2 linked regions of the Homo sapiens genome follow. The protein of the gene in region 1 purifies or fractionates together with the protein of each later gene. This does not show direct contact. Each region holds a gene or a part of one and is shown in the gene's direction. Other genes may lie near its edges.

Evidence for each region. Proteins that work in one complex are often made in the same cells at the same time.
Region 2: the proteins of PHF13 (region 1) and DNASE1L2 purify together in Homo sapiens (affinity purification with mass spectrometry; 3 studies listed by BioGRID and IntAct, with this or other methods). This does not show direct contact.

The regions. Positions count from the first base shown.
Region 1 is NC_000001.11:6,616,731-6,620,230, forward strand, and holds part of PHF13 (PHD finger protein 13), read left to right. Parts: intron 1-26; coding exon 27-128; intron 129-3,072; coding exon 3,073-3,500. UniProt on the Homo sapiens protein: Modulates chromatin structure and DNA damage response by regulating key determinants of chromatin compaction and DNA damage response.
Region 2 is NC_000016.10:2,234,995-2,239,211, forward strand, and holds DNASE1L2 (deoxyribonuclease-1-like 2 precursor), read left to right. Parts: upstream 1-1,449; 5' UTR 1,450-1,566; exon of another isoform or gene 1,567-1,783; 5' UTR 1,784-1,822; coding exon 1,823-1,966; intron 1,967-2,043; coding exon 2,044-2,132; intron 2,133-2,223; coding exon 2,224-2,307; intron 2,308-2,381; coding exon 2,382-2,655; intron 2,656-2,772; coding exon 2,773-3,024; intron 3,025-3,367; coding exon 3,368-3,424; 3' UTR 3,425-3,717; downstream 3,718-4,217. Other genes in the region: transcription factor E4F1, read left to right, coding at 1-7, 87-149, 222-578. UniProt on the Homo sapiens protein: Divalent cation-dependent acid DNA endonuclease involved in the breakdown of the nucleus during corneocyte formation of epidermal keratinocytes.

The DNA.
Region 1 (3,500 bases):
CATTCCCTTTTCTCTCCCCTTAATAGGAATACTCCCCCAGTTGCAAGAGGCGCAGGACCGTGGAAGACTTCAACAAATTCTGCACCTTTGTCTTGGCCTATGCTGGCTACATCCCTTATCCGAAGGAGGTAATCTTCTGAGTTTCTGAGACCTTTCTTGATGAGTAGTCAAACCCAGTGCCTCCACCGCAAGTTCGTGGGCTTCTGACTGGTCAGAGGGTCAGTAGGTTTGGAAGGGGCTGCTTGTGGTGACCCCAGTCACTAGTCTGGCAGAAATCTGTTTCTTGAGAGTTTGAATTAGCTGGGGAAATGGTTCTAAAACTCTGGTAAAAACTCTGGTAGAAAATGCAGGCTTGTCTAGAAAATGATTTAGTAAACTTTCTTTTTTTTTGGAATGGAAACTTGCTCTGTCGCCCAGGCTGGAGTGCAGTGTCGTAAAACTCCACCCCCGGGTTCAAGGGATTCTCCTGCCTCAACCTCCTCAGTAGTTGGGATGACAGGCGTGCGCCACCACGCTAATTCTTTTTTGTATTTTTGGTAGAGACAGGGTTTTACCTTGTTGGCCAGACTGGTCTCGAACTCCTGACCTCAGGTGATTCACCTGCCTCGGCCTCCCAGAGTGCTGGGATTACAGGCGTGAGCTACCGCCCAGCCGATTTAGTAAACTTTCAGTTTATTTACAAATAAAATATGTGATATTTGCTTGCTCTTTTTGTTTGTTTGTTTGAAATGGAGTCTGGCTCTGTCGCCCAGGCTGGAGTGCCGTGGTGCAATTGTGGCTCACTGCAACCTCTGCCTCCTGGGTTCAAGCGATTCTCCTGTCTCAGCCTCATGAGTAGCTGGGCGCGCCACCACACCCAGCTAGTTTTTTGTATTTTTACTAGAGACGGGGTTTCACCGTGTTGTCGAGGCTGGTCTCGAACTCCTGACCTCATGATCCACCCGCCTCGGCCTCCCAAAAGTGCTGGGATTACAAGCGTTGAGCCACTGCACCTGGCTGTCTGCTTGCTTTTAATAAGGGTCTGTAGTTACTGACTGTTGACCATAGCTGGACACTATTCTTGGCCTATGTAATGCTATGAGGTAGGTGCTATTTTTTATCTCCAGTTTATAAGCTGAGGAAACTAAGGCATAGAGAGGGAAAACTTTGTCTTAGGTCACCCACTGATTAGTGGTGGAGCTTGGGGTTCAACCAGATGGCTGGACTCAGTGCACACGCTGCCTCTGTCTCAGCTCCCTGGCTGCCCGAAATGCGTATGATTGTCTTCAGGGACTCATGGCTGCAACTTGATGTAGATGAAGGAGGTTTTTTCACTTGCTGAGAACAGGGCAGGACTGGAGGAGAGCGGCTGTGGTGCTCAGACTTCAGGCCTCTTTCGTATTCGATTAAGCTCAAAATTGAACAATCCAGCTTTTTTTTTTTTGCGACAGGTCTTGCTCTGTTGCCCAGGCTGGAGTGCAGTGGCACAGTCTTGGCTCACTGCAGCCTCTTTCTCCTGTGCTGAAGTGATCCTCCCACCTCAGCCTTCCAAGTAGCTGGGACTACAGGCCCACCACCACACCCACCTAATTTTTGTATTTTTAGTAGATACAAGGTTTCGCCATGTTGCCCAGGTTGGTGTCAAACTCCTGGCCTCAAGTGACCCACCTGCCTTGGCTTCCCAAAGTGCTAGGATTACAGGCGTGAGCCACTGCGTTTGGCCGTAATTTTATTTTTTGTAGAGACAAGGTCTCACTGTGTTGCTGAGGCTGGTCTCGAGGTAGTGATGCTCCTGCCTTGGTCTCCCAGAGTGCTGGGTTTACAGGCACGAGCCACTGTGCCCAGCTGCATTCAGTATATTTCTAGCAGGCAAACTGCCAGCATTGGTTTATTTCCATCTGCTACATAGGTGGCTAATGCCTGCTTTCTTTTCTTTCTTTTTTTCTTTTTTTGAGACGGAGTCTTGCTCTGTGGCTCAGGCTGGAGTGTGGTGGTGCGATCTCAGCTCACTGCAACTTCTGCCTCCTGGGTTCAAGCAATTCTCCCTGCTTCAGCCTCCCAAGTAGCTGGGATTACAGGTGTCAGCCATCATGCACAGCTAATTTTTTTGTATTTTTGGTAGAGAGGGGGTTTCACCATGTTGGCCAGGCTGGTGTCGAACTCCTGAGCTCAGGTGATCTACCCGCCTCAGCCTCCCAAAGTGCTGGGATTACAGGTGTGAGCCCCCGCACCCAGCCTAATGCCTGTTTTCTAGCAAGACAAGGAGGACGTTGCCACTGTTTGCAAATGATATGCTTGTGATCTGAATGAACCATAGAGTTTACTTCACTGCTTTGGGGCAGTAATTACCTACTTGGATTCTGCAATATTTTGGAATGTCTAGTTTTTTAAGAGTGTCAGGAAATTCTCAAAACTAATTTAAATTCACTTAAAACAATATATCTCTTGGGAGGGCAAATGGAAGGAGAGGTTTTACAATCAGGGAACAATGAGCAGATAGGAGTGGGTGTCCACAGCACTCCTTCCCACAGACACCTGTTGCACACTGATGAATTTTCTGTCTCTAAGATGGGGCTGAGGGTTCAGCAGGGAGTTTCTCTCTTCGTGGCATCACATTAAACTCATGGCACTGATGGCACTGGGTTTTTTTTTTTTTGAGACACAGAATCTCCCTCCCGTTACCAAGGCTGGAGTGCAGTGGCTCACTGCAACATTTGCCTCCCGGGTTCAAGCGATTCTCCTGCCTCAGCCTCCCAAGTAGCTGGGACTACAGGCACCACCACCACGCCCAGCTAATTTTTGTATTTTTAGTAGAGATGGGGTTTCACCATGTTGGCCAGGTTGGTCTTGAACTCCTGGTCTCAGGTGATCCGCCTGCCTTGGCGTCCCAGAGTGCTGGGATTACAGGTGTGAGCCACCACGCCCAGCCAGAACTCATGTTACTGTTGCTTCAAGTGTGATGCTGATGGGCAGAGAAGCTCAAAGTTGTGCAGATGTCTCTGGAGGTCTGACATGGCTGGGTGGCTGGGGATGCTCTGCTCTGGGCTGGATCTTGTCACCAGTAACTGGAATCTGCCACCTTTGTCTTTTTAGGAACTCCCTTTAAGGAGCAGCCCCAGCCCTGCTAACAGCACTGCTGGTACCATTGACAGCGACGGCTGGGACGCGGGTTTCTCAGACATCGCGTCCTCAGTGCCCTTGCCAGTCTCTGACCGCTGCTTTAGCCACCTGCAGCCTACTCTCTTGCAGCGAGCCAAGCCCAGTAACTTCCTGCTGGACAGAAAGAAAACGGACAAGCTGAAGAAGAAGAAGAAGAGGAAGCGCAGGGACAGTGATGCGCCTGGGAAAGAGGGGTACAGGGGGGGCTTGCTGAAGCTGGAAGCCGCTGACCCCTACGTGGAGACCCCCACGAGTCCCACCTTGCAGGATATCCCCCAGGCTCCCAGCGACCCCTGCTCGGGCTGGGACTCCGATACTCCCTCGAGTGGATCTTGTGCCACTGTGTCACCTGATCAGGTCAA
Region 2 (4,217 bases), on another chromosome or scaffold:
CATCGAGGTGGGTGTGGGGCCCTGGGGCCGTGCTGGGACCCAGGGGCAGCCAAGGCTGACCTCTGTCCTTCTGCCCATCTGCCCAGGCCACTGCGGACGATGCGGAGACCAGTGAGGCCACGGAGATCATCGAGGGCACCCAGACAGAGGTGAGGGGTAGGGCAGGCGGGGGCGGGGAGGCTCCCTGGCACAGCCGCTCTTGCTGAGCCGTGGCCCTGCAGGTGGACAGCCACATCATGAAGGTGGTGCAGCAGATCGTGCACCAGGCTAGCGCCGGCCACCAGATCATCGTGCAGAACGTCACCATGGACGAGGAGACGGCGCTGGGCCCAGAGGCGGCTGCCGCCGACACCATCACCATCGCCACCCCCGAGAGCCTGACAGAGCAGGTGGCCATGACGCTGGCCTCGGCCATCAGCGAGGGCACTGTGCTTGCCGCCCGGGCAGGGACAAGTGGCACTGAACAGGCCACTGTGACCATGGTGTCATCAGAGGACATCGAGATCCTGGAGCATGCAGGCGAGCTGGTCATCGCCTCGCCGGAGGGCCAGCTGGAGGTGCAGACGGTCATCGTCTAGCATGAGGTCTGCGGGGTCCTGGCCGGGCAGGGACAGGGCAGAGGACTCTGAGCGCCCCACCCATGCCTGCCTGGCCTGGTAGAGAAGATGGCACAGGATGGAGGCGCCCCAAGACGGACAGTGTACATAAGAGTTTCTTGTTGCTTTACAATAAAACATGAGAACCTGCAGCTTGTGATGTTGTGGCAGTGGCAGCCTCCGCGGCTGGTGCCACCACCTTTGCCCAGGCCCCCGCAGCAGCACCTGCCTCCCAGGCCACTCCTAGACTCACGTGCCTGGCCGCCCCACCCAGGGGCTTCTGCCAGCCCTGGCGGCGCCTTGGTGCTGTGTGGGTGTCATTGGCATGTTGACCAACAGCCTCCTGCCCTGCCCAGCTGGAGCTGTGCCCCCAGCTGCGCTGCCTGAGGCCTGTGGGTGGGTGGGAGGACCAGGGACGGGGACAGGGAGATCTGGGAGCCTCGGCCTCCACCGCAGGGTGAGCAGGTGGAGCAGCAGCAGGAGATGCTGGGTAGGGAGTGTGGCTGGTCCTACCTGCGCTGCCTTGCTTTCCCTGAAGGGATTCTGCTCAGGGAGGCAGAGTCTAGGCGACCTAATTTCTAGGGGCGAGGACAAGAACACAGCCGCACCGGGATGTGGCTGACCGTCTACCTCCCTCCTAGGGGGCTGGCAGGGGCTTCTGGGACGGTTTTGGGACAGGTCTGGGGCACCAGAACCGGCTCAGGCAGGTCTCCCACCCCTTACCCTGGGGGTCTCCATGGGAATGAAAGCCAGGAGTTCATCAGGCACCCAGCTGAGTCGAGGGGGCGGGACCCAGTGCAGCCCGGCCCCTCCCTGGCCCAGGACCTCAAATACCGGCCCCTGCCTTGGTGCCAGAGCTACTGCCAGAGGGAGTCAGTGCAGTCCTGTGTCGGACACGCCCGCAGCCTGGACCCGGGATCCCCATCCCCCTAGGATCTCTGAGCCTCGGGCCTCTGCACCCACATCCAAGGTGAGTCTCTCGGCTGCCCTGAGCTGGGGCTGGATGGGCCGGACCCTCCATTCCGGCTGCAGCTTCCCGCGCAGTGAGAAGGCAGCGGTCCCTGAGAGCCCAGCAGTGCCCTGGGAGCCTGCAGAACGCAGGGGCGGATTCCGCGTCGCACTGGCCGTCAAGGGGCGGCCGCGGAGGGAAGGGGTGGGTCGGTGGGTCTGACAGCGGGTCTGCGTAGGCGGCAGCGTCTGTCCCTCCCAGCCTCTCGCTCCGCGCCATGGGCGGGCCCCGGGCTCTGCTGGCCGCACTCTGGGCGCTGGAAGCCGCCGGGACCGCCGCGCTTCGCATCGGAGCCTTCAACATTCAGAGCTTCGGTGACAGCAAAGTGTCGGACCCCGCTTGCGGCAGCATCATCGCGAAGGTGGGGCCCGGGCCGGGGCGGGGCGGCGTTTAGGGGTGCTGACCGCGCTGACCCCCGCACCCGCCGCTCCTCCCCAGATCCTGGCTGGCTATGACCTCGCGCTGGTGCAGGAGGTGCGAGACCCAGACCTCAGCGCCGTGTCCGCGCTCATGGAGCAGATCAACAGGTGTGGTGGGCAGGGCCCCTCGTCGCGACCCCCCGCCGGGATCTCGCCCCGGCGCGGCGCCCCGACCCTGAGCGGGCCCCTGTCTCCGCAGCGTGTCCGAGCACGAGTACAGCTTTGTGAGCAGCCAGCCCCTGGGCCGGGACCAGTACAAGGAGATGTACCTGTTCGTGTACAGGTGAGGGGCGGGCCGCAGGGAGGGGCGCGCGGGGCCGCAGGTCGGGGGCTCAGCGGGTCCTCCCCATCTCCTAGGAAAGACGCGGTGTCGGTCGTGGACACCTACCTGTACCCAGACCCCGAGGACGTCTTCAGCCGCGAGCCCTTCGTGGTCAAGTTCTCGGCCCCCGGCACCGGTGAGCGGGCCCCGCCCCTCCCCTCCCGCCGAGCTCTGACGCCCCCACCCCTTCCCGCAGCAGCACAGAACCTGGTGCTGATCCCGCTGCACGCGGCGCCGCATCAAGCCGTGGCGGAGATCGACGCGCTCTACGACGTGTACCTGGACGTGATCGACAAGTGGGGCACCGACGTAAGCCCACCCCTCGGTCCCGGGGTCCCTGCAGGCGCGCCCCGGGGGTCTGGTTCATGAGGGCGGGACCTCGACGGCTCCTGCGGCGGCTCAGACACGGCTCCGCGGCGCCCGCAGGACATGCTGTTCCTGGGCGACTTCAACGCCGACTGCAGCTATGTGCGGGCGCAGGACTGGGCCGCCATCCGTCTGAGGAGCAGTGAGGTCTTCAAGTGGCTCATCCCTGACAGCGCCGACACCACGGTGGGCAACTCAGACTGCGCCTACGACCGCATTGTGGCCTGTGGCGCCCGCCTGCGCCGGAGCCTGAAGCCCCAGTCGGCCACCGTGCACGACTTCCAGGAGGAATTCGGCCTGGACCAGACTCAGGCGAGTGGGCCGTGGGGCGGTGCTGGTCTTGGGTCCCCACCGCCCGGGCGCACGCAGGCAGCAGGGAGGGTCCAGCGCCCAAGGCAGGGCCACCTCAGCTTCCTCCCTGCACCAGGGCTCGTTTCCAAGGACCCTGGAGAGCCCGGCCCACCCCATGTGGAGCTCTGGGCAGGCAGGGTACCTTGCCTTTCCCTCAAAGGGCCAGTGGTGACACCCTCTGCCCCGGCCCCTGCCCCTGCCCCACCGCAGGCAGCAGCAGGGGTGGGCACCCAGGCCTCACCGGCCCCTCCCATCCCTGTGGGTGGGGTGCACTTTTCCCCTGAGGCTCACTCTGTCCCCACAGGCTCTTGCCATCAGCGACCACTTTCCAGTGGAGGTGACCCTCAAGTTCCACCGATGACTCGAGGCCTGGCTGGGGCATGCCACCTGCAGACCCTGGCTCTGAGGAATGGCCCAACAGTGGCCCCTTCAGGGTGGCAGCCACCCTTCAGTGAGGCCCCAAGGCAGAGTCGGCTGGGCGTGGACCAGGGGCCATGGACACGTGATGTGCTGCTCTGTACCTCCGTTCCCCATCTGTGGGACGGGCTGCATCCAGCGACCTCATGGGGTGTTGTGAGCCCCATGAGGGGTGCAGGGGGCACTGCCCGGCAGATGTCTGCTCAATAAATGAGCTGCTCCCGGTCGGGCCCCACAGCTTGGCTCCCAGGCCTCTGTCCTTCCTTAGGACCCAGCCTCAGCTCCTTAGGGGCAGCCATGGCCTGGGCTGCCCACCCCATGTCCTGGTGGGACGTGGCTGCCCCCGGAGCCTGCTGGCCCCAGAAGGCAGCTCAGGGATGCTCCTTGCTCATCCTCTGTGGAAACTACAAACACTCCCAGGAGCCTGTACTGTGAGCACAGCTGGGACAGGGATGGCGCCAACACACCAGCCTCCTGGGCCCTCGGGGCTCTCAGAACAGCTCTCCCCAGGCCCACCCCGCAGCCCCCATTCCAGGGCCCTGCAGGGGCCCCCAGGCACTTGTCTGTCTCAAGAGCCCGGTCTTACCCAGCACTGCAAGGGGAGGCCAGCCCCAGCTAGTCAGCAGCCCTGGAGCTTTTGGAGAGCCTGAGAGCAGTGGGCGGGCTGGACTCCTCCCTGCCCAGGCAGGTGGCTTGGGACTAAGGTCCCGTGCAAAGAACCGCCCAGCTCGCCGTGG